Linked DNA regions of Homo sapiens: all the other regions are linked to region 3. Evidence: fine-mapped expression QTL. A gene starts in region 3. Each other region holds a variant in brackets. All regions are shown on one strand. Distances are between the middles of the regions.

Region 1 (8,102 bases), 220 kb after region 3:
CATTTAATAAGAAACAACAGTATATTTGTCTGTTTTCATGCTGCTGATAAAGCCATACCCGAGACTGGGTAATTTACAAAGAAAAAGAAGTTGAATGGACTCACAGTTCCATGTGGCTGGGGAGGCCTCCCAATCATGGCAGAAGGCGAAAGGCAGGTCTTGCATGGTGGCAGCCAAGAGAGAGAATGAGAACCAAGCAAAAGGGGTTACTCAGGAGCCTGTGGCAGGAGAATGGCGTGAACCCGGGAGGTGGAGCTTGCAGTGAGCGGAGATCGCGCCACTGCACTCCAGCCTGGGTGACAGAGCAAGACTCCGTCTCAAAAAAAAAAAAAACCCATCAGATTGGCTGGGTGCAGTGGCTCACGCCTATAATCCCAGCACTTTGGGAGGCTGAGGTGGGTGGATAGCTTGAGGTTGGGAGCTCGAGACCAGCCTGGCCCACATGGTGAAACCCCATTTTTACACTACACTACATTTTTAGTGTAGATCCCAAATATTTAGCGTAAGTATGGTTTGTGTAATATTTAGGATGCTCATATTTTAAAACGGTGATACTGGAATGCTTCTCCCCACCGTCATGAAGCTGGCACTTTCTTACCAGCTGGGACTTGGGTCCAACGGGGTCTTTTCTGACCATGTTGTGTAACGCTCACAACCTCCCTCAGTGGAGTCATCGCTGGCTTATCACCTGGTTTCATTTTCATCCAGCACTTATCGCTATCCAAAACCATCTTCTTTCTTATGTACATATTTGTTTATTTTTCTGTAAACTTGCATAGAGAAGTACCTATTTATTAATTAATGTTTACTAATTTTCTTATTCCACCAGAAGGCAAGCTCCATGGGAGCAGGGGTTTCCCTTTCTTGATTGATCCTTTCTCCCTACAAAAGACCACACAGCACACAGGGGTCACGGTGCACCTGGGAAGCATCTGGGAAGGTGGACGATTAGAAATGGGCTTTTGGGCTGGGCACGGTGGCTCACGCCTGTAATCCCAGCACTTTGGGAGGCCAAGGTGGGAGGATCACAAGGTCAGGAGATTGAGACCATCCTGGCTAACATGGTGAAACCCTGTCTTTACTAAAAATACAAAAAAAAAATTAGCCGTGCATGGTGGCAGGCGCCTGTAGTCCCAGCTACTCCGGAGGCTGAGGCAGGAGAATGGTGTGAACCCGGAAGGCGGAGCTTGCAATGAGCCAAGATCGCGCCACTGCACTCCAGCCTGGGCGACAGAGCAAGACTCTGTTTCAAAAAAAAAAGAAAAGAAAAGAAAAGAAAAAAGAAATGGGCTTTTGGATCCAAATGATAACAACAGTGACTCCACCGCCTGACATTTTGTCTAACATGATCCCACCCCTGGTCACAATTGATTGGACAGGGATGGGCACTCAAACCATGCTGGACCAATCAGAGCCCCTTCCTCAGTCCCGCTCCTAATTAGTGCAGGGCTGGGCCAATCAGAGTCACTGCTCTGGGAATTTAGAATCTGAAGTGAGCAAGAACAGGAACAGTGGCTCCCCAGTGGCTGAATCTCTAACAGGTAAACTTTGAAAGCTGTTTGGTACATTTTCATTTTTCAGTCTTGAGGACCAGAAAGCAGAGAAAACATCTGTAGAGAGCGAGGCGACACTGACTTCTACCTAACTTCCCCAAAAATATTCACACCCAGGCCTGAGGGAAGAAACAGGAGCTACATACAGAATGGAGATGGAAACACACATGTGTTCACACACGCACACACAACACACGTGCACACACATGTGCACAATGCACATGAGCACACATGCACATACGTATACACACATGCTCATGCAGTGCACACACGCATACCCGCACACGAACACACACGAACACATGCACACACGGGCACACACACATGAACACACATGCACAATGTATACACAGTGCATATGTGCACACATGCACATGAACACACACATGCACACACACGCACATGAACACACACACATGCACACACACGTGCACACACATGTAGTCGTTTTAGGAACTAGACTGCCAGTTTATGAATTTGCAATGATAAATCACTTTCCCGGGATATAAGCGTGATGGTCACATCCTTTCCTCTCAGTCCAGGGGTCGTCCTTGAACTGCACAGCCACAGTGCCAGTCCCAACAGTGCCAAGATTCCCCTCCAAGGAATTCACTCTTCCCGTCTCTCATCTTGAAGCTGCCGATTTGTGCCCCACTAGAGGAGCCAAGACGTCCCTAGAACCTCCTCCTCTCATGCGGACAGCCTGGCAGGCACCCCCCAACTCCGGGCTCTCAGGCCTCGTTTGGATTTATTTTGAAGGAAGCTATTGTTTACTAAATGCTTAATTCTCCCGGAATGGTGCCAAGCGCTTCATACAGCCCTGCCCAATGAGCTGGGCCCTCCCGCACCTTTAGGGAATGAGCTGAGCTATCTGCGGGGGTACTCGAGGTGGGACAGGCACAGTGTGGCAGCGCGTGGATCTGGCTGCTGTTTTCCTTTGTGACTGGCACCTCTCCTCTCCCCCTTCCCTCCTCCCCACCGCTTTGCTCCCCCAGCCTTTCTTCCTTGGCCTTCAAGGCCATACACACTCCCTGGAAAGAGCCCTTGCTGCCACCTCTGTTACTCATCGTCCTTGGCCCGTGCTTGCTCCAAGTGCTGGCACCCCCAGCTCCTAGGAAAACTGCTGGCAGTGTCCCCACCAACGGAAATTTCCTTGGCCTCTCTGTTTGTTTCGCTTTGTTTCTGGCCCTGCCACGGTGTGGCCCAGGCCTCGGGAGCCTGTCTGTGTGCAGTTCTCTGCACCTTGTCCGCTCCCTTCCCTTCGTCTTATGGGCACTGCCCCTCCTTCCATCCAGGGTTTGCTGTGTTTTCATCTCATTCTCTGTTTCTCTCTGAAAACCTTTCTCTAGCCCTACCTGTCCTTCATCTGAGGTTCTCATTCCCTCCATCCCCAGCAGCTCCAGATTCCCAATCTGGGTGAACAAAGAGGACAGAAAATCTGTGAAGGAGAGGACCGAGAACCTGGAAAAATCAGCTGCAGAGACGGGGAGGGGACCGGGAGCAAGTGAAGCTGAGTAGGAGAGAAATAAAAAGGAAACTGGGTTTTGGAGAAAATGACAAATAAAGTGAAACCAGATTGGCCCACGTGGATGGGAGCCAAGGGAGGGATGACCCAGCTCATTTCCATGGCCCGGGAGAGACACCGGATCCTTCTTTCGGTCTGTGGCAGGGAGGGCCTAGATCCTTTGAGCAGATGTGAAGCCGGTGGGGAAGCCAAAAGTGGGGTTGGGACAAGGTCAGAGGCTGACACTGGGAGACAGAGACAGCAGCAGTGGCCTTGGACCTGAGAGCAACCGAGTCAGGGAGGGGCCGAGGTCAGCTCGGGGTCCATGGCCAGGACGCACGTCCAGTGAGGAGGGCGCCCCATCCTCACTCTGGGAACAGCGTCCTCGGCTGTCCTGCGGGAGTGCTGCCTCCCACTCTCCAAGCACACCTTGCTCCAGGCGGGGTCACCCTCGGGCTGGCCAGATGAGCAGCCAAAGCCGGGCCCCTGAGAATCAGCCCTGGGATGGTGGCTGGAACTGCCGGGAAAGAGGTGACGTCGCTCCACTGGAGGCCAAGCCACAGCCTCGGGTGGCCACCATTGCCCCATCAGGGAACCCCCATGAGTGTCCCCTGGGGAAAGCAGAGCCTGGGGGAGCACTCAGAGCCCTGGCAGTCGACAACCCCTGCACCCGGTTGCAGCCCTGACTCTTTAGGATCGGAGCTGGCAAATCTCCCTCTTCTTTGCTTAAGCCAGTTTGAGGTGGGGTTCTGCCAGGTAAACCAAAAAGAAGTCTTAAGAAGCCTTACTGGAATTCCTCACTTGGAGAGCAGCAGTGAGATCCCAGGCTGCAGGGACAAGAGGGAGGAAGGCAGGGGGCAGTGACGGGTGGGAGATGGTGCATGCTGGCTCTGGAGCTGACTGTGCAAATCTCTTCCCAACTCCACTATTGGTGACTGCACCTTCAAAACTTGAACTCGGCCATGCAGGGGTAATTGCACCATGGAAAGTGGCGAACACCACACATCACCGCTCTTGTACCTCCACCCAGCCCCGGAAAGCCAGCTGCTAGGCCTGTACCAGCATTCCCCACCCATGGACTCAGGAGGGCCAGGCTTACCTGGGACCACTTCTGAAAGTTGCACCAGCCCCAGCTTCCCTGAGGACAAGGCTGAGTCACGAAGCATGGACGAGGCTGAGCTGCAGTCTGCACAGGTGGAGTTAAACAGGCCATAGCCAACTCGCCCCTCACCCAGGGTCTGCACAGACCTCACCTGCAGCCAAATTACATTTGAGCACACAGTAAAAGGATGGAAACTGATGATCCTCCTGCTCCCTCCCTTCCATTTCTTTGCTCTCAGTTTAGTCACTGTTTTTTGTTTGTTTGTTTGATTGTTTGTTTGTTTTTGAGACAATGTCTTCTTGCTCTGTCACCCAGGCTGGAGGGCAGTGGTGCAATCTCAGCTCACTGCAACCTCCGCCTCCTGGGTTCAAGCAATTCTCCTGCCTCAGCCTCCTGAGTAGCTGGGACTACAGGCACGCACCACCACACTTGGCTAATTTTTCTATTTTTAGTAGAGACGGGGTTTCACCATGTTGGCCAGGCTGGTCTGGAACTCCTGACCTCAGGTGATCCACCTGCCTCTGCCTCCCAAAGCACTGGGATTACAGGCATGAGCTACTGCACCTGGCCAATTTAGTCACTTATTTTATTTTATTTTATTTTATTTTTTTTGAAACTAAGTCTCACTTTGTTGCCCAGGCTGGAGTGCAGTGGCGTGATCTCGACTCACAACTTCCGCCTCCCAGGTTCAAGCAATTCTTCTGCCTCAGCCTCCCCAGTAGCTGGGATTACAGGTGCTTGCCACCACGCCCAGCTAATTTTTGTATTTTTACTTTTTTTTTTAGACCAGGTTTCACTCTTGTCACCCAGGCTGGAGTGCAATGGCACGATCT[C/T]GGCTCACCGCAACCTCCACCTACCAGGTTCAAGCGATTTTCCTGCCTCAGCCTTCCAAGTAGTTAGGATTACAGGCATGCACCACCACGCCTGGCTACTTTTGTATTTTTTGTAGAGATGGGGTTTCTCCATGTTGGTCAGGCTGGTCTCGAAATCCTGACCTCAGGTGATCTGCCCGCCTCAGCCTCCCAAAGTGCTGGGACTACAGGCGTGAGCCACTGCACCCGGCCAATTTTTGTATTTTTTAGTAGAGATGGGCCTTCACCATATTGGCCAGTCTGGTCTTGAACTCCTGACCTCAAGCAATCCACCTGCCTCGGCCTCCCAAAGTGTTGGGATTACAGGCATGAGCCACTGCACCTGGCCACTTTTATTTGCTTGTATCAGGACTCTTGGAAGCAAGTGATAGGAACTTAAATCAAACTGATTTTAAAAAGAGGCTTATTAGTACAGGGGTTGACTTGGCTTCAGGTACAGCTACATTCAGAGGCCCCGAAATTGGCTTGGGCCTTGATATCCCCCACCTTGGCTTTGCCCTCCTGTGTGGACACTTTCTCAGGAGGGCCCTCACCTGCTGCGGGGCACAGCTATGGAAATAATCTCTTTAAATACGTCCCAGAAAAAAACTCCTTGGCTCTCATTGGCTGGTCTTGAGTCACGTGCCCATGCCTGTACCAATTGCTGCAGCCAGTGACAGGGCTGTTCTGAGTGGCCATGCCCAGGTCCCCACCCACTCCTGTCTCTGGACCCCGTGAATGGGAGTCGGGGATGGGCTCCCAAGGAAAACAGGAATGTTGGACCCAGGACGCAGGAGGATGGAAGCCGAGCCAGCAACACAGCAGATACCCTTACAAAGCCACGGACTGGCGGGATCAGCGGCACCTGGGAGCCTGCTGGCATGAGATTCTTGGATCTGCCTTGCACCTGCCAAGTCAGAATGTCTAGAGGGAGCACAGGTTGTGTTGTGTGTATGTTATTGTTATTATTATTATTTTTTTTGAGAGACAGGATCTCACTGTGTTGCCCAGGCTGGAGTTAAGTGGCACAATCCCAGGTTACTGCAGCCTCAATCTCTTGGGCTTAAGCAAGCCTCCTGCCTCAGCCTCCCGAGTAGCTGGGACCACAGGCATGCACCACCACGTCCAGCTAACTTTTTTATTTTTATTTTTGTAGAGATGCATTCTCGTTACCCTCCCGCCTTGGCCTATCACAGTGCTGGGGTTACAGGTGTGAGCCGCCGGGCCGACAGGAGTCTGTGCTCCAACACACTCTCCAGGGGATGTTGGTGCACACTGGTGTGTGAGAACTGTTTGTCAGCCCCCCACTAAAATTAGCATTTTATTCACTGATGTGAATAATATCCTCGCCAGGACCAGGTGTAGTGGGGAAGGGGAGGTTCCAGGGAAAGTTGCGAGGCTGTTCCTGAGGAGGGTGTGCCACACAGACAGGCACGCAGGTTGAGATTCTTGACCAAAAGCAGCCTTTGACTAGTGATCCTGGGGGATAATTACCATCTGCAGTTGTCTTGTTTTCTAGCCTAAAACCTGAGCCTGGGTTCCCTTGGGGATACAAAAAACATCTAGATTCCAAGGCACACCTGCTGCCACGAGCTGAACAAAAAATAACAAGTGTGCCCTTAAAGCACTGCAGGGATGTTCCTGCTCCACCGCCAACAGGGCTGAGGCGTGGGCTTGTTCTTGCCCTGGGGGGTGAGGGACGGGCCTCCCGTGCAGACCTCAAGGCCCAGTGGACACAGCCTCTGCTGGGCTTGAGCCAGAGGCCCATCTGGGCCCTGGGCCGGCTGCCGGCTCTCCTGGGGACTGACTGTGACCTTGGCCTCACTCACCCAGAGTGCTGGTGCTTCCTCTCTGCATGGGGGTCAGCTCCTGGTGGCCTCCTGCTGGATTTTGTGGATGTTCGATGCAGATTATTTCTCTAAAGGGTGCCTGCTCCCCAGATTCCCTTCTTTGCAGAGCACAGAGTCCCACTGGGAGGCCTCTGTGGCCTCTGGCCAAGGAGTTCCCCAAGCCTCCTTTTTCCCCATCTGTAAAATGGGGACTGGTCTGTGTCTCCCACGACTGTTGAAAGGAAGACTGCAGTGGTGCAAGTGAAGCCCTTGGTGAGGAGAAGTGAGTTGGTGAAGGGCTAGAATCTGCAGTCGAACGGAAGCCGGCTCCTTGCACTGGGTCACTCACCCTTGGAAGTCGCCCCTTCTCTGAGCCTCCATTTCTTGCTACATAAAACGAGGGTCCCGCAATACTCTCTCTAGTGGCTTCTGTTTTGTGCCATGCTGCTATTCATAGATGGCAGTGCTTTTTTTTGTTTGTTTGTTTTCCATGATGGAGTCTCGCTCTGTCACCCAAGCTGGAGTGCAGTGGCTCAATCTCTGCTCACTGCAAACTCCACCTCCCAAGTTCAAGCGATTCTCCTGCCTCAGACCCCCGAGGAACTGGAACCACAGGTGTGGGCCACCAACCCAGCTAATTTTTGTATTTTTAGTAGAGACGGGATTTCACCATGTTGGCCAGGCTGGTCTTGAACTTCTGACCTCAGGTGATCCACCCACCTTGGCTTCCCAAAGTGCTGGGATTATAAGCATGAGCCAGCTCATGCCAGGGTGGGCGAGCTGGCTTGAGGTGAGCCGAGATCACACCACCGCACTCCAGCCTGGGCGACAGAGCGAGACTCCGTCTCAAAAAGAAAAAAAAATCCACCTCCTCCAGCATCAATGTTTAAAAGTACCTACCTCTTCAGCACACAGGGATCAAAGGGGACGAAGGTGTCCAGTGGGTTTGTGCAGGTCTGCACTGAGTCTCCTCCAGTGGTACTCCTAATGACTGGCAGCATCTGGCGATTGTTCCTCTCGATGATGGTGTAGCAGAAGACGAGCTGGTACTTACTGTGGAACAAAAAAACAACACAGACAGAGGCATTAACATGCTGGAGTGACTCTGCGGATGTGAGCTGCATGTGACAACTGTACCTACCACAGAGAAATTGCTGAATATAACAAGTGCTGGTAAAAATAACAATATAAAGCAGAAAGTAACACTTTTAGGGTACCGTTCTATGGGTCTTCTATCTGCAAGTTTGCTAAGGAGAAAGAAAA
Region 2 (8,102 bases), 53 kb after region 3:
GATCACTTGAGCCCAGAAGTATGAGGCTGTAATGAGCCATGATTATGACACTGCACTCCAGCCTGGGCGACAGAGTGAGACCCTGTCTCTAAAATAAATTTTTTTTTTTTTAAGACGGAGTCTCACTCTGTCATCCAGGCTGGAGTGCAGTGACATGATCTTGGCTCACTGCAACCTCTGCCTCCTGGGTTAAAGTGATACTCCTGCCTCGACACCCTGAGTAGCTGGGATTTTTGGTACGCACAAGCACGCCCAGCTAATTTTTGTATTTTTATTTTATTAATTTTTTTTTTGAGACGGAGTTTTGCTCTTGTTGCTCAGGGCTGGAGTGCAGTGGTGCAATCTTGGCTCACTGCAACCTCTGCCTCCCAGGTTCAAGTGATTCTCCTGCCTCAGCCTCCAGAGTAGCTGGGATTACAGGCATGTGCCACCATGCCTGGCTAATTTTGTATTTTTGGTAGAGACAGGGTTTCACCATGTTGGCCACGGTTGGTCTCCAACTCCTGGCCTCAGGTGATCCACACACCTTGGCCTCCCAAAGGGCTGGGATTACAGGTGTGAGCCACCATGCCCAGCCTTAATTTTTGTATTTTTAGTAGAGGCAGGATTTCACCATGTTGGCCAGGCTGGTCTCGAACTCCTAACCTCAACTGATTCACCTGCCTCAGCCTCCCAAAGTGCTGGGATTACAGATGTAAGCCACCGTGCCCAGCCTAAAAATATATTTTTTTTAATTTTAAAAAAATTAAAGGAAAAGAGGAGATTAGATTCTGGGCATCATCAGGAGCTCCTACAATAGAGAGCTAGTAAGTCATGGAGCCAGGGTCTGAGCCCAGGCAGGCGAGTTCCTCTGAGCCCTCCCCTTGCCGCTTCTCAGAGGAGGTGCGCCTGGGCCCTCCCGCCTGAGCCCACTCCCCATCCCACCAGGTGGACATCATGCAGATGTGCATCATCGAGCTGAAGGACAGACCGGGCAAGCCCCTCTTCCACCTGGAGCACTACATCGAGGGCAAGTACATCAAGTACAACTCCAACTCTGGCTTTGTCCGCGATGACAACATCCGCCTGACGCCGCAGGTGAGGCCGAGCTCACCTCCACCCTCTGCCCACCACAGCCCTTGGGGTGAGATCCTGGCCAGGCTCAGCCCCTAAAGAGGAAGGTCCCTGTGGGCTTGGAGTCTCACCCCCAGAGAAGCCTCTTGGAGCATTCAGAAGGAGACCCGTCACCCCATGACAGCTTCTGTCACCTAAGGTGGCCACAGGACCTGCAGCCCAAGGTCCCTGCCCAACTGAAGAGGCCTTTTTCCTTTGTCTTTTCCTCTATATAACTCCTTGAAGAGAAAGCCCCTCAGCATGGGCAGAGGCGTGGCCAGTGCCTGCACAGACCTCAGCCTGTCTCTTGACATCTCGTTTTCCTTCCTGTCCCCTGTAGGCCTTCAGCCACTTCACTTTTGAGCGTTCCGGCCATCAGCTGATAGTGGTGGACATCCAGGGAGTTGGGGATCTCTACACTGACCCACAGATCCACACGGAGACGGGCACTGACTTTGGAGACGGCAACCTAGGTACGTGGGGAAAGCCAGCCTGTTTCTGCAGAAACCACGCTCCCTGCTAAAACCTCTGAGTTCTTCGTACAGCCAAGGAAACAGGCTGAGACACTGTACGCGCTTTTTCAAGATCATGGAGATGGGAGCCTGGATGTCTGATGCCTCCCAGCTTGGCACGTTTTATACCTGCCCTGGCCATATGTATGAGGCCCACCACTGCCTGTCCCCCGTCACAGAGCAAAGCAACACTCCAGACACCCCCGCTCTGTCCACAGGTGTCCGCGGGATGGCGCTCTTCTTCTACTCTCATGCCTGCAACCGGATTTGCGAGAGCATGGGCCTTGCTCCCTTTGACCTCTCGCCCCGGGAGAGGGATGCAGTGAATCAGAACACCAAGCTGCTGGTGGGTGCCCAGTGTGACCCTGCTTGGCCTGGCAGGCCCTTCTGCTACTTGCAAAGCAAGCCCTGCTCCCCTGTGTGGTGACAGCCAGGTCAAGCAGTGCTTAACTGATGAATACCAGGGCTGGAAGCATCTGTCCCATCCATGCCCCAGCCCGTCCCCTCCAGCTCAGTGCACAAAGCCCTCCTGAGCGTCCTTCCAATCGAGCAGCTGGTATCTGCTTAGGTTGGGCCCATTTTTTACCAGAGTGAGGGGAACAGGCACGTGGAGATAGTGAGAAGGCATGTGGTGTGTGTGTGTGTTTGTGTGATGTATTGACAAATGACTGAACTAGTCTTAGACCTGGCTCTCCAGGCACCTCACCAACATACCTCCCATCCTCCCATTGCTACTTGGACCAGGGACAAGAGAATGTTGCAAAGACCAGCTTGGGATGCTGGACATAGAGTGGAATGCTTTCTCCAGCTCTGGGCTGTGGAATGTGGTCAGTGCTTTAGGGGATACTGGCAGGTCCTCTGAGCCTCTGTTCCAGATGCCCTTTCTTGGAGGCCTTAGGTTTAATCCCTGACTGATTTTTTATTTTTTAAGACAATATATCAGCTCCTAAACAGGCATGTTTAGGAGCTGTGGATGAAGGGGTTTCAGGGTTAGAGGGAACAACAGGAAGAGCCCTTTAATTCCCAGAGGGTGTGTGCGTGACATGAGTATCCCTATTAATGTCCCTAGCAATCAGCCAAGACCATCTTGAGAGGAACAGAGGAAAAATGTGGGAGCCCCCAAGTAAGGACCCTCTCTGGGAGCCGGCCACCCCTGCTCCGTCCCCTTTCAGAGAACTCTGGAGACGAGAACATGAGCGACGTGACCTTCGACTCTCTCCCTTCTTCCCCATCTTCGGCCACACCACACAGCCAGAAGCTAGACCACCTCCGTGAGTGACGGTTCGGTCCCTAGTCACTGTGATTGGAGGGGACAGGTGGAGCAGAGCTAAACCAGCTTTCATTTATGTTAGAAAAATCAGACATGCTAATCGAAAAGGTTCATGGCCCCAGTGGTTTTATAGGTGAGTTTCATTGAGTGAACTTTCAAAACAGATCATCCAAATGCTATAAAAACAACCCCTATTGTAGGAAACAAAGTAACTTTTATCAGTGTGTTTTATGAAACCAGCAAAACCTATATAATAAATTTGACAAACTAAAAAAGAAAATTATATCCCAACCTTATTTAAAATTTGTATTTGTGTATAGAGAACAAAAAAAAAATCTAAATAGATATTAACAAATAAAAATAGTACTATGTTAAAAGGTTCACCTGTCACAGTTAAATAGGGATTTCACAGGAATCTGAGGGTTGTTCAATGTTAGAAAAGCTATGAATGTGATATTAATGGGTCAAAGGAGAAAAACAGAATCATTATTTCTGACACTGAAAGAGTGGAGTTTGCTGATGATTCAGATGAGAGTCTGTAGGAAAGGATAGAGGCAAGACTGACCCCAGGGTATTGGCCTAAAGAGCTGGAGGTCATGTATTCAGGGAAAGTGTGAGCGGGAGCAGGCTCAGAGCAGGAGAGCAAGATTTTATTGTTTAGTTTTTTAATTTTTCTCATTTTGATACCTTTGAAAGAGAGAAAGATTTTAGTGTCAAACATTAAAGAAGCCCTTTAGATGTTTCCACTGGAAGGTCTTTGGAATAGTCTGGAACAGGAGTCAACAGACTTTTTTAAAAGGTCAGAGAGTAAATATTTTAAGCTTTGCAGGTCATTCAGTCTCTGCATTTGGAGCATGAAAGCTACCATAGAAAATATTAAGTGAGTGGATGTGGCTGTGTTCCAATAAAACTCTATGGATGGTGAAATTTAATTTTTGTCATCCATTTAAAAATGTAAACACTGTTCTTACAAACTATAAAAACAGACAGATAGATTTGGCTGTAGAGGGCAGGAGACAGAGATAGGGAACCACCAGGAGATGGTTGGTGTTTTTTTTTTGTTTGTTTTGTTTTGAGACGGAATCTCTCTCTCTGTCACCCCGGCTGGAATGCGGTGGCGTGATCTTGGCTCATTGCAATCTCTACCTCCTGGGTTCAAGCGATTCTCCTGCCTCAGCCTCCCAAGTAGCTGGGATTACAGGTGCATGCCACCATACCCAGCTAATTTTTGTATTTTTAATAGAGATGGGGTTTCACTATGTTGGCCAGATTGGTCTTGAACTCCTGACCTCAGGTGATCCACCTGCCTCGGCCTCCCATAGTTCTGGGATTACAGGCATAAGACACCGTGCCCAGCTGAAGATGGTTTTGAAGCTATCTGAGGCCCACTTCTTGAGCCCCAAATGTATAAACGTCTGTTCTTCCTTCACAACTGCATTTTATTGAGGACCAAGTGGTGGCCAGGCACATATGCTAATAAACACATTACAAGGATAATTGCATTGTGACAACCCTGAGGACACACATAGGTGACACCACTTGGCCAGAATCATGTAGCTGGCAAACAGCAGACTTAGAATAAGTTCTCAAGGAAGAACTTTAGCCTCCAGGTGCTGATAACATTCTTCTCCTTTTTTGTGCCTTTCTTTAAAGCTTAAAAAAAAAAAAAGGCTTGGTGGCAGGTATGGACCGCCCTAGGCCGTGGGTTGGTCTTATGCATGTTCCAGTAGTGGAACCAGGACATGATGTCTGTTTCTCCCTGCCCAGATTGGCCAGTGTTCAGTGACCTCGATAACATGGCATCCAGAGACCATGATCATCTAGACAACCACCGGGTGAGTGTGAAGGGAGGGAGGCTGCAGGCTTCAGACCCCAGCAGGGGTAGGAGTGGATTCACTCCCAGAGTGAATCTTCAGCTTCGGAGGTGGGCAGCCTAGCCCAGGCACTGCCAGGAGGGCACAGAATGGGGGAATTAGGGAGGATGCAGATGAATGTCAGCCTCCAGTCCAAGGCTGAGCTTTCCTCTGAGAAAAGGTGGGTCCCTTGCAGTTCCCAGAGATGGTTAGGGAAGAGGGACTCCCAGTCAGCAACAATGCGATCTTGTAGTAAATGCCAGTCTCAGCTCCAGGTTTGGTTTGACCCCACATGTGTTGGTTGTCCTATAGAGCCCTAATACTGGGTCTTAGATGTGTAACACATAGCACAG[T/G]AAGCCATGTGTTCTAGCTCTTCACACCTAGCTCTCCAGTTAGATAAACAGAACATTTCCTGAAGCTTTGGGTTGACTTGGTGGTAAGAAACTGAAGGCATCTTATCTGCATTCTCACAAATGTATATTATGGCAAATTATAATACTCTCTATGCTTGTGTGTGTGTTTGAAATATTTCTTAGTAAAATTGGCCAGGCATGGTAGCTCATGCCTATAATCCCAGCACTTTGGGAGACCAAGGTGGGCAGATCACTTGAGCCCAAGAATTTGAAACTAGCCTGGGCAATATGACAAGACCCCCATCTCTACAAAAAAATACAAAAGTTAGCCAGGCATGGTGGCACATACCTGTAGTCCCAGCTACTCAGGAGGCTGAGGTAGGAGGATCTCTTGAGCCTGGGAGGCAGAGGCTGCAGTAAGCCATCATCACACCACTGCACTCCAGCCTGGGTGACAGCGAGATCTTGTCTCAAAAAAAAAGAAAAAACAAATACCTTTTAGTAGAGGCTGGGCGCAGTGGCTCACGCCTGTAATCCCAGCACTTTGGCAGGCCAAGGGGGGCAGATCACTTGAGGTCAGGAATTTGAAGACCAGCCTGACCAACATGCCAAAACCCCATGTCTACTAAAAATACAAAAATTAGCCGAGTATGGTGGCAGTTTCCTGTAATCCCAGCTACTCAGGAGGCTGAGGCACGAGAATTTCTTGAACCCAGGAGGCGGAGGTTGCAGTGAGCAGAGGTCGCACCACTGCACTCCAACCTGGGCGACAGAGCGAGACTCAGTCTCAAAAAAAAAAAAAAAGAAATACTTCTTAGTAGAGGCGGGGTGTGGTGGCTCACACCTGTAATCCCAGCACTATGGGAGGCTGAGGCAGGCAGACCACTTGAGGCCAGGAGTTTAAGACCAGTCTGGCCAACATGATGAAACCTCATCCCTACAAAAAATATAAAAATTAGCCAGGCATGGTGGCATGTGCCTGTAATTCCAGCTACTTAGGAGGCTGAGGCAAGAGAATTGCTTGAACCTGGGAGGTGGAGGTTGCAGTGAGCTGAGATCACGCCACTGCACTACAGCCTGGGTGACAACGTGAGACCCTGCCACACACACACACACACACACACACACACACACACAGAAAAGATACTTCTTAGAAGAATAAAGAAGGAAATAAAACTATTCCGTTACTAATTGTGCAGGTGACATGCAGAGAGAGCTATAATTCAATGTTGGTAGGTACATGGCTGAAGTTTTAGAGATTCTAAATTATACCAGATTCGCTTTCAGAACAGAACTCAGACCTGGGAGAATAAAAAATATGCCCAACTAGGCCAGGCACGGTGGCTCACGCCTGTAATCCCAACACTTTGGGAGTCCAAGGCAGGCGGATCACAAGTTCAGGAGTTTGAGACCAGCCTGGCCAATATGGTGAAACCTCGTCTCTACTAAAAATACAAAAATTAGCCAGGCGTGGTGGCAGGCGCCTGTAGTCCCAGCTACTTGGGAGGTTAAGACAGGACAATCACTTCAGCTCAAGAGGTAGAGGTTGCAGTGAGCTGAGATCGTGCCACTGCACTCCAGCCAGTGTGACAGAGCGAGACTCCATCTCAAAAAAAAAATAAAAATGTGTGGTTTTGGTTGAGGGCTTATTTGTATTAAATATTGTTCCCAATGCTATATTTTTGTCCGTGGGTCATAGCCCTTAACCAGCCTTTGTTTTTCTGCCTGTGAAGTGGGTGAGTCACTCTCAGTAAAGCACTTCCTGTGATCCACACTCTCAGAATGTAACAGTGCATTTCACCCACACAGCCCTTCGATGTAGGGGCTATAATGAATCCCATAACTAAGGACACTGATGCTCAGAGAAGTTAAGCAACTGCCCAAGGTCTCAGCTGGCAAGAAATAAAGCCAGGATTTGAGCCCAGGTCATTTGGCTGTAGAGCCCAAGGTCCTTACTGTTACCTTATACTGCTCCCTCGTTGGCCAGGCAGGTCTTGAACTTGTGTCCTCAAGTGATCTGCCTGCCTCGGCCTCCCAAAGTGCTGGGATTACAGGCATGAGCCACCACACCCGGCAAGGGACAGCAGGAGCAGGGTGTTAGGTAATGGGACAGAGGGGAGAAAGCTAACAGTTGGGGTGTTGAGATGTCATAACCATTTCCAGGTGCTCAGGGGACCACCAGGACCCTAAGGCCGTCTTCTCTCCACAGGAGTCTGAGAATAGTGGGGACAGCGGATACCCCAGTGAGAAGCGGGGTGAGCTGGATGACCCTGAGCCCCGAGAACATGTAAGGAACCCCCAGGAAATGAGACCGGTGTCACCTGTTGCCTTGTTTATCCTCCAGGAAAATGAAAACTCCCCTTCCTGGAGGGGGAATATGAGTGGGTCCTGAGAAGATAACAAGTAAATTAATAAAGAGTATTTCAGGCCGGTCATGGTGGCTCACGCCTGTAATCCCAGCACTTTGGGAGGCCAAGGCGGGTGGATCACCTGACATCAGGAGTTCGAGACCAGCCTGGCCAACATGGTGAAACCCCGTCTCTACTAACAATACAAAAATTAGCCTGGCATGGTGGTGCATGCCTGTAATCCCAGCTACTGGGGAAGCTGAGGCAGGAGAATCACTTTAACCCAGAAGACAGAGGTTGCAGTGAGCCAAGATTGTGCCACTGCACTCCAGCCTGGGTGACACAGTGAACTTTGTCTCAAAATAAAATAAAATAAAGAGTATTTCAGATAAAGATAAATGCAAAGAAGATAAAACAGGATCATGTGGACCAGTAACGGGGCAAGTGTGGAGGCTTAGATATAAGGCTGATAATGGCTGACAAATCTTATGGTGAAGTGGGAGTCCTGGGCTGCTGAGCAGAGAGGATCCTGGGTAATAGCTGGACCCACTCATAGGCAGGATCCTGTGAGGCCCCAGGGAGGAGGGCCTTGGAGGTCAGTTTCCTTGGGTAGCCTCCCAGCAGCATCCTGGTGAGGGCAACCTCAGACAGTATCTGCCATTTAGAGGTCTTAC
Region 3 (8,102 bases):
TCGCTCTGTCGCCCAGGCTGGAGTGCAGTGGTGTGACCTCGGCTCACTGCAACCTCTGCCTCCCAGGTTCAAGTGATTCTCCTGCCTCAGCCTCCCGAGTAGCTGGGATTTCAGGCACATGCCATCACACCTGGCTAATTTTTGTATTTTTAATAGAGACGGAGTTTCACCACGTTGTTGCCAGGAGTTCAAGACCAGCCTGGCCTCAAGTGATCCGCCCGCCTCGGCCTCTCAAAGTGCTGGGATTACAGGCATAAGCCACCGCCTGGCCTACTGCATTTTAATTATGCATTCATCAGTCATTTGGATTGTTTTCACCTTTTGCCTATTATGAATAATATTCCCATGAACATTTTGTATAAGTTTTTGTGTGGACATATGTTTTCATTTCTGCTAGGATTTGAATTGCTGGGTTATACGGTAACTTCATGTTTAATTTTTTTTAAGAATTGCCAAACTGCTTTCCATTCCTACCAGCAGTGTATGAGGGTTCTAGTTTCTCCACATCCTTGCCAACACTTGCTATTATCTGAGATTTTGATTATAGTCATGCTAGTGGGTAGTGGGTGTGTTTTGACTTGCTTTTTTTGGTCACCCACGCTGGAGTGCAGTGGTGCAATCATAGCTCACGGCAGCCTCCAACTCCTGGGCTCAAGCTATCCTCCCACCTCAGCCTGTCGAGTAGCTGGGACTACAGGCACACATCACCGAGCCTGGCTAATTTTTCTATTTTGTTTTTTTGTAGAGATGAGGGTCTTGTTATGTTGCCTTTGCTGATCTGGAGCTCTTGGGCTCACACCATCATCCCACCTTGGCCTCCCAAAGTGCTAGGATTACAGGCATGAGCCACCATGCCTGGCCTTGCATTTTCTTAGTGGCTAATGACGTTGAGCACCTTTTCATGTCCTTATTGGCCATTTGTATATCTTCTTTGGAGAAATGTCTATTCCAATCTTTGGCCCATGTTTAAATTGGAGTATTTATCTTTTATTATTGAGTTGTAACAATTCTTTATATATTCTAGCTGCAAATCCCTTATCAGATATGATTTGCAAATATTTTTTCCCCATTCTCTGATTGTCTTTTCACTTTCTTTTTTGTTTGTGGTTTGTTTTTGTTATTGTATTTTGAGAGAAGGTCTTACTCTGTCCCTCAGGCTAGAGTGTAGTGGCGGGATCTTGGCTCACTGCAAACTCTGCCTCCCAGGTCCAAGTGTTCTTCCCACCTCAGCCTCCTGAGTAGCTGGGACCATAGATGCAAGCCACCACATCTGGCTAATTTTTGTATTTTTTTATAAAGATGAGGTTTCGCTATGTTGCCCAGGCTGGTCTCAAATTCCTGAGCTCCAGCAATCTGCCTGCCTCCCAAAGTATTGTGATCACAGGCATGAGCCACTGAGCCTGGCCTTTTTCATTTATTTATTTAATTTTTACAGACAGGGTCTCACTCTGTTGCCCAGGCTGAAGTGCACTGCATGATCATAGCTCACTGCAGTTTCAAACTGCTGGGCCCAAGGGATCCTCCTGCCTCAGCCTCCTGAGTATCTGAGACTACAGGCACACACCACCATACCTGGGTTTTTTTTTTTTTTAATGTTTTATTTTAGAGACAGGGGTCTTGCTATGTTGCCCAGGATGGTTTTGAACTCCTGGCCCCATTGATCCTCCTGCCTTGGCCTCCCAAAGCTCTGACATTACATGTGTGAGCCACCTTGCCCGGCCTTGAGTAATTTTATTTTACCGCAGTAGACATCTCCTTGAAGGCAAATGTTTCCCCCAATTCCTAGCACCATATTTGGCACACAATAGGAGCTTAATAAAATTTGCCATAAGAATTAATGCTCAGAAACTCTACTATTACATCCTATCTGCTCAACTCCCTGGAAAAGAGACATTCTCTTTTTATGGTTACTATAAAAGGCCCAGATTAGTATTTCACTGGCCTAACTTGGATCACATGCTCATCCCTGAACCAATCAATGAGGCTGAAGGGATGAAATATGCTAATTGGCCAGGTCTGGTCATGTGTCCATTTTTGGAGCCAGGGGAGTGGGGAGGGCTATTTTCCTGAACTGAAATAGGGTGAACTGGTTCCCTGAAGACTAACCAAGACGCTAATGCAAAGAAGGACACTCCTGCTGGGCAGACAAAAATGACAGAGGCTCAGAGAAGTAAAATAACTTGCCCAAGGGCCATAGAGCTTTAAGCAGTAGCGTCTTTTTTTTTTTTCCAATCTTGCTTTGGGCTTGGACAGACTAGTTCAGCATCTTTGATCTTCCCTTCCTGCCTGACGGCCCCAGGGTCAGAATTCCAGGTGCAATTTTGTCTTGCCAAAAGCTGGAGTTTACTCTCTTTGGGGTTTATAAATAAGGAAAAAAGTTCTTTGGAGAGCCTGAACTTTGAAATCAGAGAAGTCTGGATTTACTGCTGGCTCTGCCTTTTCTAGCTGCCTCACCTGGGGCATGTCATTATCTCTATAAGCCTCAGTTTTGTTCTTTTTTCTTTTTTATTTTTTTGTTTTTGTTTTTTTGCGACGGAGTCTCATTCCTTCACCCAGGCTGGAGTGTAGTGGCGCGATCTCGGCTCACTGCAACCTCTGCCTCCAGGGTTCAAGCGATTCTCGTGCCTCAGCCTCCAGAGTAGCTGGGACTACAGGCGCGCCCGGCTGCTTTTTTGTATTTTTACTAAAGACAGGGTTTTACCGTTTTGGCCAGGCTGGTCTCGAACTCCTGACCTCAGGTGATCTGCCGGCCTCGGCCTCCCAAAGTGCTGGGAAGATGGAATGAGAGAAATCCCTCAAAACATGTCATTGTTACTACTTTTCTATCTAGAATGTGTGAAATTTCTAAAATTTCACTAACAAAGTATCTGGAAGGACCTAATATTAAAGTGTTCACAGTAGCTATTAGTTTTAATTCGTTTTCTTTTTTATACCTTAGCCACTCTACCACTCATGCCACAGGTATTTATTAAGCATCTACTGTGTGCCACCCAGGCCCTGTGTCAAGAGTTAGGAATAACTAAAGGAGATACTAATTTTAAAACTACACAAATAATTGCAATCGTCATACGTGCCTGTTTTTACAAAGCAGAAATCAGGAAAAACAAAGTATTTCCGATAAAAAATATTTTAAGGTTATGGATAGAGATACATACAAACAAGCGATGGGCTTGGATCACTAATGATTTTGGAAAGGACAGGAATACAGGAACTAAGCGAGAAGCAGGCGAGAATGGCGAGGCGCGGCGGGAGAGGACGGAAGTTGGTCACTCCCTCGAATTGCCCCCTCGCTGCCGGATGCTAGGCCAGCCTTGAGCAGGAGAACCGGACACTGTGTACTCAGCAGGGGGAGCCAAGACTTAGCGCTAACCATTGCACCTGGGGCTGGGAGCCAGCGCCGGAGCCAGGAGGCCCGCTAGGCGGCTGCAGGCGCTGTGATGGCCACCTGGGGGCGGCCACGTGAGCGCCACGCCGTGCGCCCGCCAGGCCAGCCCCGCCCCTGCCCGCCCGCTTCTGCTCAACCTAGACCAGCCCCAGCTTCAGCCTCAGCTCCCCTCCTTCCTGGATCGAGCGCCCGCACTCCCGGCCCTGCAGCCACCCGAGTCCCGCTCGCTGTCGCCTGCACGCGAGTCCCCCCTGGCACGCGCTCCCACATCCCGGGATCGTCCCAACGGCCCCTGCGCCCTTCCTGGGATCACTCCGACTGCCCCGCGCGCCCTGGGATCGGTCCATCTACCCCGCGTGGCCCCAGCTGCTTGCCCGGAGCGCCAGCTAGCGCTCCCCGCTCTCCGCTCCCCGGCACTCTCGGGGGGCCCGCCCGCCCTGCACCCTGGAGCTCCGGGCCGCGAGCCTCTGCCAACTCCTCTGGACCCTCGCGGCCGTGGGCAGCGGCTGCCGCGCCTGTCTGCCCGAGGGAGGTAGGTGTGGACCGCGGCCGGCAAGGCTGTGGGGGGCTGGGAGCCCGCGCTGCAGGCCTGTGCGCCCGGGTGCAGCTGGCGTCTGGAGCGTGCTGGGTCTGGGCTTGGGAATGGGGCCGGAGAAGGCATGGAAGGAGAGTGTGGGGGCGCTTCTCCTCTGGTTGTTAAACTCTCTGGGGCTAAGTGCTTGCTTTGGAGAAATGGGGAAGTTGTGCGGATTAAAGGCGATGTGGATATGGAAAGCAATTGGCAAGCAATGGGCGGTGATCTGGCTGCAAGTGACAGAGAGTTTGGGGGCCTCCCCCCTCGGGGCCCCTAGAGTGTGGGCGCATCGCTGCCTTCCTGTCCCCTGCAGGGCTCAGAGCCGCATCCCCCACCTTTCCCCTGAACTAGAGGCCTGCGTCAGCCCGAATTCCCGGAACCTCCAGGACTGTATAGACGCGCCCTTGCTGCATTGTTGGCTGCGGGAGTTTGTTGGCAGGCGCTGCTGACATGTGTGCCAAGGGGCTGGGCATTAATAAGCCGGTGGCCGCGCGGGGGTGGGGGCCTCCCGGGTAAGCCCCGGCCTAGATCCTTTTGCGCGCGCCTGGGGGATTTCGGGGAACCAGCCCAGCTGCGCCCTGAGTGTGACAGATGGGCCGCATGGGGAAGTGAGATCTGCCCAGGGGGACGGTCCCAGGGAGCCCGACCTCTGGGACCTCGGTGGTGGGTGCTTCTTCAGCCAGGAAAGCAGGAAACACTAGGGCTGGAGTCCTGGGTTGGAATTCTAGCTCATTTATGCTCTCTGGCCCTCGGTTTTCTCATCGGTAAAATGGGTACAGTATTAGTATCTACCACTTAGTATCCTTGGAAAGAGTAGATGAGTATGTATATGTCAGGTGCTTGGAACAGTGCCTGGCACACAGTGTCATAGTCTATGGCCCCGGGAGACATCTGATGGCCAAGAGCCCTGTGGTTGAGGGCCCTGGACAGGCTGTGAAGTCACAGCGAATTGAGTCACGTAGTCTATCCTAATGTTTTTAGCGAGGAGGAAACCGAGGGTCAGAGTGATCCCCAGGCCCACAGAAGCTCCCTAAGAGGAAGCCAGTCACATAAACAGATTCTAAAAAGCGAGATGGAGTAAATGGGAATACAGAGCAAGCAGGTGGGAGCTGAGAATGCCCACTGTGTGTGTAAAGGGGAGAGGGTTATGGGGGAAGGCTTCCTGTAGCAAGTGCTGTTTAAGCTGAGCTGGGGAAGAGGCAGGTGGAAGGAGGTAGAGTTCAGAGATGGCGTATGCAGGTGTCTTCCTTCTGTGTGGCCTCCACAGCACCCGATGTTCATTCCTTTGTTCAGCTATTAATTCAACAACTACAGTAAAACCTCTCAAGGACATGAATTTCAGTGTAACATGGCTGGGATTGGCGTCCGCCCTCCTCTCAGCCCCCATTCTCAAAGAAGGGGGTGGGGTCCGAAGTTCTTATCCTCTGCAGGGAATGGGGAGGCCAGAAGACAGAACTGAAGTGGTCACAGTTTACACATAATCATCGGTGTACATTCCAAGAGCTACCGGTGTTTTGGGCCAGGGGCGTGGTGGCTCAGGCCTTTAATCTCAGTACTTTGGGAGACTGAGGAAGGTGGATCACTTGAGGTCAGGAGTTTGAGACCAGCCTGGCCAACATAGGGAGCCCCCATCTCTACTAAAAATACAAAAATTAGCTGGGCATGTTGGCATGAGCCTGTAATCCCAGCTACTCGGGAGGCTGAGGCAGGAGAATCGAGAATCGTTTGAACCCAGGAGGTATAGTTTGCAGGGAGCTGAGATTGCACCACTGCACTCTAGACTGGGCAACAAAGCGAGACTCTGTCTCAAAAAATAAAAAAGATCCACCAATTTGTTTTTCTTGTGCTTTTTGTAACTGTACAGTACTTTTTGGCTGATTACGGATATATCACTGGCTGGGTGTGGTAGCTCACACCTGTAATCCCAGCCACTTTGGGGGTGCTGAGGCGGGAGGATTGCTTGACCCCAGGAGTTCAAGACCAGCCTGGCTGACGGGGTGAAACCCGGTCTCTATTTAAAAAAAAAAAAATCTCTGATTTGCTTTTAAAACATTTTACTGTATTATGTGGCAGAGAAAGCTATGGGTCACCAGTACCCATGTTCTCGTCCTCCTGGGGTGCTCCCTGGATGAATTTTCCTAGGCTTCCTTACCATTCGGTAGGGCCACACGGCTGAGTTTTGGCTGATGAAATGTGAGTGTGTCCATTTCAAGCCTCGACCCTAAAAACCTCTCACTCTTTCCTTATTTGTTGGACAAGTCAAGGCGACTTTGAAGGCCTAGAGGAGGGCAGAGCCACAAGCCAGAGGGAGTGTTTGTTGTTTTTGAGATGGAGTCTTGCTCTGTTGCCCAGGCTGGAGTGCAGTAGTGTGATCTCAGCTCACTGCAACCTCTGCCTCCCAGATTCAAGTGATTTTCCTGCCTCAGCCTCTTGAGTATGAGCTGGGACTACAGGCACATGCCACCGTGCCCAGCTAATTTTTGTATTTTTAGTAGAGATGGGATTTCACTGTGTTGGCCAGGCTGGTCTCAAACTCCTGACCTCAAGTGATCCACCCGCCTCCCAAAGTGCTGGGATTACAGGCATGAGCCACCATGCCCACCCGGGAAGGATGTCTTTAGGGTTGTTATCTTGCTGTGGGGAGAGTCCCCAAAGCAGTCTTGTCCAGTTTTTGGCAGGGTTGTCGTCTGGTTGCCGGGACTCTGGGAGCTGTGTGAAGAAAGCCAAGGGTGAACAGCAGAAGCTTGGACTTGTTCAAGCTCGTTCTCCGGGATTCACTATTTCTGGTCCAGTTCTTACACCTGAAGCAGAACAACTGAATGATCAGGGCTATAGACAAAGTAATAGCGGCAGGTTGAACTAATTTAAAAGAATCAGTGTTTTTTGTTGAGGGAGATTGGTTCTGCTGACCTGAAAGCTGCAGGTTATTACCCTGATGAACTGAGAAGGCTCCTAGAAGGTGGTTAGAGCGATGACCTTGTCTCCACCTGGGATGAAAGCGGCTTGGGCCTTAAAGTGTTGCTGGATCAAATTCTTGCAGCCAAGGCTGATGAGCACAAGCAAGGAGGCTTCTTTTTTGTTGTTGTTTTGAGACAGGGTCTTGCTCTGTCACCCAGGCTGCGGTGCAGTGGCACAGTCACAGCTCACTGCAGCCTGGAACTCCTCGGCTCAAGTGATCCTCCTGCCTCAGCCTCCCAAGTAGCTGGGACTACAGACATGAGCTACCACCATGGCTGGCTAACTTTTAATTTTAGTGTAGAGATGGGGTCTCACTCTGTTGCCCAGGCTGGGCTTGAACTCTGGGCTCAAGCGATTCTTCTGTCTGGGCCTCCCAAAGTGTTAGGATCACAGGCATGAGCCGTGCCCAACCATATAAGAAGGCTTCAGACAAAGGAAGGAGTGAGTCACTAACACGCTGATGATAAAGCAGAAAATAACAGTGCTCCCCACAACCCCCAAAGTCCCAGGGCTGTGGGACTCCTAGAGAAGCGTCTCAAATGGCTCCAGAGTCAGAAGGTGGATGGCGTTCTGTTCTCCAGCTGTGAAGCTTTCGAGCTCTAGCAAGGACTAGCAAGCCAGAGGAAGCACCCGGAAGTAGGTGGCTAAACTGCGGAAAATTGCCCTAGGCCAGCGTTTCTCTAACTTCAGTGCACATCAGCATCCCCAGCAGGACTTGCTTACACTTTGATTGCTGGACCCATCCCCAGAGTTTAATTTAGTAGGTCTGTAGTGAGGCTTGAGAATTTGCATTACCAGCAAGTTGCCAGGTGAGGCTGCTGCAGTGGCTGCTGCGGCAGCTGGTCCCATACTTTTAGAAGCGCTGGTTAAGGAAGTGATGACTGCATTGAAAGCTCTGGATTCAGCCCGCACCAGCTTCAAACCCAACTCTAGTCATGTGATTTGGGATAAGTCACATAACCTCTCTGTTCCTTAGTTTTCTCATCTGTAGAATGAAGCTAAGAGCGACTAACTCCTGGGGTTCAGGGGAGGCTTCATGAAGGAGGTGATATCTAAGCTGAGACCTGAGGGATGAGCAGTCAAGTTGGCCAGGGGATGAGTAGGGAGGACAGGCTGGGGTGTGTACCAGACAGAGGGCATAGCATGTTCAGAGCCCGAGGAGGAAGGAGTGCCTGCCTTCTAGGG
Region 4 (8,102 bases), 39 kb before region 3:
AGGAGTTTGAGACCAGCCTGGCCAAAATGGTGAAACCCCCGTCTCTACTAAAAATACAAAAATTAACCAGGTGTGGTGGCGCGTGCCTGTAGTCCCAGCTACTCGGGAGGCTGAGGGAGGAGAATTGCTTGAACAAGGCAGGCGGAGGTTGCAGTGAGCCAAGATCACACCACTGCACTCCAGCCTGAGCAACAGAGTGAGACTCCTTCTCTAAATAAATAAATAAAGCCATGAGTGTTCGTGCTTATACGGGGCAGGACTGTATTCCTCACCCAGACATTTGGTGAGCAGGGCAGTAACAGAGGAAATTAAAAATACAGCCCCTCTAGCTGCCAGAGTCCCTGCCCTGTGACCACCACCAGCAAAAAAACATGGGGCTCATCAGTCCAGTCACTCAACAAATACCCGTTCTTTCATGCAGCCAGTATATGCCATGCAGGGCAGAGATGCACCTATCTGTATATGTAGGGCCTGGCGCACAGAGGTCCCTAGCACATGGTTGCTGTTGTTACGGTTAATGATCACCTAGCCCTGGTCATCCAGCCTCATCCTCAGGTGGAGAGGGAGGTCGGGAGGGGGGTGGGGGGATGGACGATGGTGACAGTGACTGACAGCCTGGCTTGCCCTGAGTCTAGACTGAGGGCTGGGCACAGTGGCTAACGCCTGTAATCTCAACACTTTGGGAGGCCAAGGCAGGAGAATTGCTTGAGTTCCAGGAGTTCACTACTAGCCTGGGCAACAGAGTGAGACTCTGTCTCAAAAATTAAAAAAAGATCTAGGGAGCTGGATGCGGTGGCTCACACCTGTAATCCCAGCACTTTGGGAGGCTGAGGTGGGAGGATCACTTGAGGTCAGGAGTTCAAGACCAGCCTGGCCAACATGGTGAAACCCCATCTCTACTAAAAATGCAAAAATTCACCAGGCATGGTAGCATGCACCTGTATTCCCAGCTGCTTGTGGGGCTAAGATGGAAGGATCGCTTGAGCACAGAAGTTTGAAGCTGCAGTGAGCTATGATTGTGCCACTGCACTCCAGCCTGGGCGACAGAGAAAAGAAAGTAGTCTGAGGCTGCAAAGAACAGGATCCTCAGTGCTGTCCCCCTAGGCCCATAGACCAGACCCTAAAGCCTGCAGAGGGATTGGGCAGAACGTGTGGTACCAGCCACCCACACTACTGTCGGACCTTGGAGGACCAGAGGCGTCAGGCATCAGGGTGGAGACAGGCACAGCACTTGGAGTCATGTGCAAGTTTCCAGGGTGCAGAGTCCTTTTGGATCCATGTGGATTCTCCTCCTCCTCCTCTTTCTCTTCCTCCTCTTCCAGAAGGCTCTCCCAATCTCCCCAGTCAGAAAGCAGCCACCTCCCAGTCTGGTGAGGTTCCCGCTGGATGATTTGCCCTGTCTTCCTTTGGTACTCCATGGAAACTGGAATTTTAAGGAACTGGTAGATAAGTCAGGAATGCTTAATGTCAACCTCAGTTACACAGCGTGACTTTGGGCCTCAATTTTCTTAGCTCTAAAATCCAAGTCTTGGCTGCCTTGTCTCTGACTCTGTGCAGAGGACAGCAGCCACACTGGAGTTTTTTGTTTGTTTGTTTGTTTGTTTGTTTTTGAGACTGAGTCTCATTCTATTGCCCAGACTGGGGTGCAGTGGCACCATCTCAGCTCACTGCAACCTCCGCCTTCCAGGTTCAAGCAATTCTTGTGCTTCAGTCTCCTGAGTAGCTGGGATTACAGGTGTGCCCCACTACACCCGGCTAATTTTTGTATTTTCAGTAGAGACAGGATTTCACCATGTTGGCCATGCTGATCTCCAACTCCTGGCCTCAAGTGATCCGCCCACCTCAGCCTCCCAAACTGCTGGGATTACAGACGTGAACCACCACGCCGGGCCCACACTGGAGATTCTTGAGATTCTGAAAGGGGCAGGTTCCCTGGGAACTCAGAGAATTTCTAATTTCCACCTGGAGTTCCCCTCAGTCCTAGAGGTCTAATAATTTATGTGACTTGAAACGATTCTAGAGCATTCTTTCTTCTATTTTTTTTCCCACAGGTGGTCGGTTTCTGGGTCTGCATGGCTCAGTAGAGGATGAAGTCCAACCCCCCACGCTCCTCCCTAGAGGCCTGCAAAGCTGCAGGCCAGGGTGAGAAGAGCTGCCCTGTCTGCCAGGCCTGTGGAGAGGTCTCAGGTCCAAGGTCTGGCTCAGGGTCTGAGTCAAGGCCTGCACCAAAGCCTGGTGCCATTCCAGGGCCTGGACTGGGGCCCAAAGCTATTCCAGGACCTCAGGCGGGTTCTGGTACTGTTCCGAGGCCTGGTGCTATTTCAGGGACTGGACCAGGTCTAGGGCCTGGGCCAGGAGCTGGGTCTGTACCTGGGCCAGGAGCTGGGTCCGTACCTGGTCTAGGAGCTAGGTCCGTACCTGGGCCAGGAGCTGGGTCCGTACCTGGGCCAGGAGCTGGGTCCGTACCTGGGCCAGGAGCTGGGTCTGTACCTGGACCAGGAGCTGGGTCGGGACCTGGTCTAGGAGGTGGGTTGGGACCTGGTGTAGGAGCTGGGCCAGGAGCTGGGTCTGTACCTGGGCCGGGAGCTGGATCGGTACCTGGGCCGGGAGCTGGATCGGTACCTGGGCCGGGAGCTGGATCAGTACCTGGGGCAGGAGCTGGGTCTACACCTGAGCCAGAGCTAGGGCCTGGGCTCAGACAGGGGTCTGGGACTGGGCCCAGACCCAGTGAGTCAACAACAACCCCAACACCAGCGCCGCAGCAGAAGACTCAAGCCAAACCTACAAAGGCTGCCAGGCAGAAGGTTCTAGTGACTGGAGGAGGAGGCTACCTGGGCTTCAGCCTGGGATCCCACCTAGCCAAGAGCGGCACTTCCGTCATTCTGCTTGACCGCCGCAGACCCCAGTGGGAACTGTCCCCGGAAACCAAGTTCATCCAGGTACAAGGAACAAGGGTCTTAATAGACTGGGGCAGTGGTGATGGTCAGGGGACAGTGTTTGATGTGAAACCTGTGGTGTGGAGTTTAGGGGCACACTGTTTGAAGCCAGACTGTTTGAGCTATAGCTCTGGCTCTGGTGCTACCAGCTGGGTAGCTATGGTCACAGAAAGGGGACAATAGTAACCAACACCTACTTCACAGGGTCTCATTGGGAGTTGATGAGACAGTGCACATAAACCTAGCACAGCCCCTGTCACCTACAGAGCGTGATGAATGAGCACGGGATGTTGCTCACGGTGCCCTGTAGAATCATTTAGTGAATCCTGCCCCACCAGCCTTTCCTGATGCTACAGAGGCTTGGCCTGGGCTGGGTCAGGGGGCCAGTTCTGAGACCAGGCAAGGTGCAGAGGTGTTATCTCTTGCCTTGGACTTGAACCCCCTGCCCTCATCTCTTCTTCCTCTGGTGCAGGCTGATGTCCGAGATGAAGAAGCCCTGTACCGTGCCTTCGAAGGGGTGGACTGTGTCTTCCACGTGGCTTCCTATGGAATGTCCGGGGCTGAGAAGGTGGGCTCCTCACACACAACACCTGGAGTTAGACAGAGTGGGGTTCCAGTCCTGGCTCTGCCCTCACACCCATGCATTCCCTATCATGCTTCACCTATTATAGGAGGGACTTGGGCTACTCCCACCCTGCATCCTGCATCCATGACACCAAATACCAGTTCTGCCATTTTTTTTTTTTTTTTTTTTTTTTTTTTTTTTTTTTTTGAGACTGAGTCTCACTCTGTCACCCAGGCTGGAGTGCAGTGGCACAATCTCAGCTCACTGCAACTTCCATCTCCCAGGTTCAAGTGGTTCTTCTGCCTCAGCCTCCTGAGTAGCTGGGATTACAGGTGCCACCAACACGCCCAGCTAATTTTTGTATTTTTAGTAGAAACAGGGTTTCACCATGTTGGCCAGGCTGGTCTCAAGCTCCTGACCTCAGGTGATCTGCCCGCCTTGGCCTCCCAAAGTGCTGGGATTACAGGCAGGAGCCACCGCACC[C/T]GGCCCCATTTCTGCCATTTTATAACTGTGTTATCTAGGGCAAGTTTATTTAACCTCTTTGATCCTCTTTCATCATCTGGAAAGTGAGGATATTACTATTGGTAATATCACAACCTCTTCAGAGAGCAATGTAATAGTATCCACCAAAACATATGTATACCCGTTGCCTCAGAAATTACACTCATTTGTGTATTTGCAGCATTGTTTTTAATAACAAAACACCAGAAATAACCTATCAGTTGAGGACTATTTAAATAAATTGTGTTTTACAGTCAAATTCTATGCAGCCATTCAAAAGAAAGAGGTAACTCAAAGTGTGCAGATTAAAAAAATAGTTTCCAAGGTGCAAAGCAGTGTTTGGCATTCTCCTGTTTGTTTCCAAAAAAAGCTAAAGAAACTATTTATTTCTATAGTCACACATGCTTATATGCTGATATTAATAAGAATAGATTATCTCGAGAAACACCGGAAATTTAACAGTGGCTGCCTCTGGGGAGGGAAAAGGAAGATTTGGAATCAGGAGTAGGAGGGAACCTTCTTTTTCACTATACACCCATTTTACTGTTTGAATTCTTTTTAACCTTGATCGTGTTGCCTATGAAACAAAAACAGCCACAACAAGAATAAATATAGAGCCAGGTGTGGTGGCTCACACCTGTAATCCCAGCACTTTGGGAGGCCAAGGTGGGAGGATTGCTTGAGCCCAGGAGTTCGAGACCAGCCTGGGCAACATAGTGAGACCCCTATCTCTATTTAAAAATAATAAAAGTAAATTTTATTATTTTTATTTATTTATTTATTTTTGAGACGGAGTTTCGCTCAGTCACCAAGGCTGGTGTGCAGTGATATGATCTCAGCTCACTGCAGCCTCCACCTCCCAGGCTCAAGCGATTCTTCTGCCTCAGACTCCTGAGTAGCTAAGATTACAGTTGCACGCCACCACACCTGGCTAATTTTTGTATTTTTAGTAGAGATGGGGTTTTGCCATGTTGCTCAAGCTGGTCTCAAACTCCTGACCTGAAGTGATCCGCCCACCTCGGCCTCCCAAAGTGCTGGGATTACAGGCATGAGATACCACACCTGGCCAAAAATTTTTAAAAGAATAAATATAGGCTGGAAGCAGTGGCTCATGCCTGTACCCCCAACATTTGGAGAGGCCAAGGCAGGTGGATCACCTGAGGTCAGGAGTTTGAGACCATCCTGACCAACATGATGAAACCCCATCTCTACTAAATACAAAAACATTAGCCAGGCATGGTGGTGCATGCCTGTAATCCCAGCTACTTGGGAGGCTGAGGCAGGAGAATCATTCAAACCCGGGAGGCAGAGGTTGCAGTGAGCCAAGATTGTACCACTACACTCCACCTTGGACAACAAGAGCTAAACTCGGTCTCAAAAAAATAATAATAATAAATATAGCTTAAAAATAAGCATGGAGCTCATCTCCTGGTGTGATGAGAATTAAATGAGATCATGGATCAGGAAGTTCTTGCCCTGTTCCTGGCCCACAGGAGCCCTCACAGCGGCCTAATTTTTGTTTTTCACATCCCAGCTCCCTCGTGAGGGCCCAGCCCATATTACCATGTTCACCTTACAGATAGGGAAACTGAGGCTTTGAGAGTAGGAAAATGACCCAACAGGTTCTGAGCCCATCTTCTGTGCCAGGCACTGTACCAGGTCCTCTCAAGTGTCTTATTGAGTCCCGCCCACCACCCAGGGGAGGAGGTTGGCCCTCACTTTACAAATGAGGTTGCTGAGGGACAGATGTGTGGGCAGAACCTCCTCTGGCCACCCAGGAAGATGGTGGCAGAGCCAGGCACCCACACTCCAGGTGGGCCTTCGGGATCCCTGCCTCTGAACTGAACATCCTGCTGCCCTGTCCCACCTGACCCCAAGCTCAGCCTTCCAGCCTCAGCAAGAAGGCATGGGTAGCACCATGACTTTCTCACCTGTCTTGTCTTTTAGCTGCAGAAAGAGCAGATTGAGTCTATAAATGTTGGAGGCACCAAACTAGTGATTGATGGTAGGTGCTCAGAGCCGGGTATGACCTGCTGTGCCTCTCCCCCTCTCTCCCTTCTCCTGCTGCAGGCCTGGCTCCCAGGGTGTAGGGTCAAAGGGAGGGCCTGTGGGCAGCGCATCCTTCGTGCACTGCAGACCTCCCCAGGGCCCTGCATGGGTGTGTCAGTGTGGCCTTAGCATGTCTGGGAACATGGGGACCAGAGTTACCTCTCAGGGCTTAGGGACTGGAAAAAGAAAAGTTGCCGAAGCTGGCTGGGCGTGGTGGCTCATGCCTGTAATCCCAGCACTTTGGGAGACCAACAGGGGTGGATCACCTGAGGTCAAGAGTTCGAGACCAGCCTGGCCAAAATGGTGAAACCCCACCTCTACTAAAAATACAAAAAATTAGCCAGGCGTGGTGGCGGGTGCCTGCAGTCCCACCTACCTAGGAGGCTGAGGCAGGAGAATCGCTTGAATCTGAGAGGCAGAGGTTGCAGTGAGCCGAGATCGTGCCACTGCTCTACAGCCTGGGTAACAAGAGCAAAACTCCATCTCAAAATAAATAAATAAATAAAATTTAAAAATAAATAAATAAGTCTGGGCGAGGTGGCTCACGCCTGTAATCCCAGCACTTTGGGAGGCCGAGGCAGGTGGATCACCTGAGGTCGGGAGTTCGGGGCTAGACTGACCAACACGAAGAGATCCCATCTCTACTAAAACTACAAAATTAGCGGGGCGTGGTGGCGCATGCCTGTAATCCCAGCTACTCGGGAGGCTGAGGCAGGAGAATCGCTTGAACCTGGGAGGGGGAAGTTGTGGTGAGCCGAGATCGCGCCATTGCACTCCAGCCTGGGCAACAAGAGTGAAACTCCGTCTCAATAAATAAATAAATAAATAAATAAACAAACAGATAAATAAAAAGTTACTAAAGCACCAAAATCGCAGACCCATGTGTGGGCTGCCTGGGCATGTCCTGCCTTATCCCGTATGTCTTTGATTCTAGAGTGTCTTTTTCTAAGTCTCCATCCAGTGAGACCTTCTTCTGACCTGTCTCTGGCAAGGTAGCCCAGGGGTCCAAGCCACAATGAGAAAGAATAAGGAGCAGACCTGGCTCCCAGGGGCCCACAGAGCAGGAACTTGACCTGCACCCTAAGTTAAGGGCAGGAGACTCTTCCCTCCTGAACAGCTGTAGATTCTGGGAGGGTCCTGGGGGTCCAAGTTGTGTGTTGAAAACTTGGTAGAGATCTGCATGACACCTCCTCAGCCGACTCTATGCTCACTTGTGTCCCGTGTGTGTCTGTGTCTTTGCATGTGTGTGTGTGTTTATTTGTTGCTATGTGCACCTGCTGCTGCAGTCTGTGTTCGCCGGCGGGTTCCAAGGCTCATCTATACCAGCACTGTCAATGTTGCATTTGGAGGGAAGCCCATAGAGCAGGGCGATGAGGACTCTGTGCCATATTTCCCATTGGACGAGGTACCTGTCTTCCGGGAGAGGTGGGCAGGACCCGCGGGCCCGGGACCCACAGCTCAGAGGGGAGGGATGGGTGGAAGCAGGGTTGGTTTCACAACTCAGGATACGTCCTAGCAGGAAGGGGCTCCCAAAACTGGGTGGCGTCAGCACTCTCCTGTTTCAGTTGGTCACACCTGCAGGGGCATTGAAATCAGACAGGTCTGGCCTTAGCCTCAACCTGGCCGCATTCTACCCATGTGACCCTGACCCTGAGCAAATCACTTAAGCCCTTTGAGCCTGTTTTTTTTTCTTTTCTTTTCTTTTGTTTTTTTGAGACAGAGTCTCACCCTGTCCCCAGGCTGGAGTGCAGTGGCGTGATTTTGGCTCACTGCAACCTCTGCCTCCTGGGTTCAATAGATTCTCCTGCCTCAGCCTCCCAAGTAGCTGGGATTATAGGTGCATGCCACCACAACCAGCCAATTTTTGTATTTTTAGTAGAGACAGGGTTTACCATGTTGGCCAGGATGGTCTCCATCTCTTGACCTCGTGATCTGCCAGCCTCAGCCTCCCAAAGTGCTGGGATTACAGGCGTGTTGTTTGTTTGTTTTGTTTTGTTTTGAGACAAGGTCTTGCTTTGCTCTGTCACTCAGACTGGAGTGCAGTGTCATGA

What was found. PIP is the estimated chance that this variant, and not a neighbour inherited with it, causes the effect.
Region 1: its variant is fine-mapped to the expression of EEF2K in whole blood (TOPMed, PIP above 0.99).
Region 2: its variant is fine-mapped to the expression of EEF2K in whole blood (TOPMed, PIP above 0.99).
Region 4: its variant is fine-mapped to the expression of EEF2K in whole blood (INTERVAL, PIP 0.93).

The regions. Positions count from the first base shown.
Region 1 is chr16:22,422,057-22,430,158 of GRCh38, forward strand. It overlaps the pseudogene RRN3P3. Among named protein-coding and RNA genes, the nearest start is that of CDR2-DT, 51 kb to the left of the region's middle. The variant C/T (reference allele first, on the strand shown) is at 4,993.
Region 2 is chr16:22,255,821-22,263,922 of GRCh38, forward strand. It overlaps EEF2K (eukaryotic elongation factor 2 kinase), which reads left to right. Exons shown (of 18, transcript NM_013302.5): 7 at 928-1,077; 8 at 1,433-1,565; 9 at 1,823-1,950; 10 at 2,674-2,875; 11 at 4,642-4,709; 12 at 7,290-7,367. Among named protein-coding and RNA genes, the nearest start is that of TRL-AAG2-4, 37 kb to the right of the region's middle. The variant T/G (reference allele first, on the strand shown) is at 5,081.
Region 3 is chr16:22,202,763-22,210,864 of GRCh38, forward strand. It overlaps EEF2K (eukaryotic elongation factor 2 kinase), which reads left to right and starts at 3,516. Exons shown (of 18, transcript NM_013302.5): 1 at 3,516-3,917. RefSeq lists silencers at 3,287-3,586, 3,747-4,016 and an enhancer at 7,178-7,678.
Region 4 is chr16:22,163,496-22,171,597 of GRCh38, forward strand. SDR42E2 (short chain dehydrogenase/reductase family 42E, member 2) reads left to right here. Exons shown (of 13, transcript NM_001394319.2): 2 at 2,052-2,142; 3 at 2,755-2,939; 4 at 3,409-3,504; 5 at 5,950-6,007; 6 at 7,338-7,456. The coding sequence starts at 2,088. Among named protein-coding and RNA genes, the nearest start is that of SDR42E2, 5.0 kb to the left of the region's middle. The variant C/T (reference allele first, on the strand shown) is at 3,985.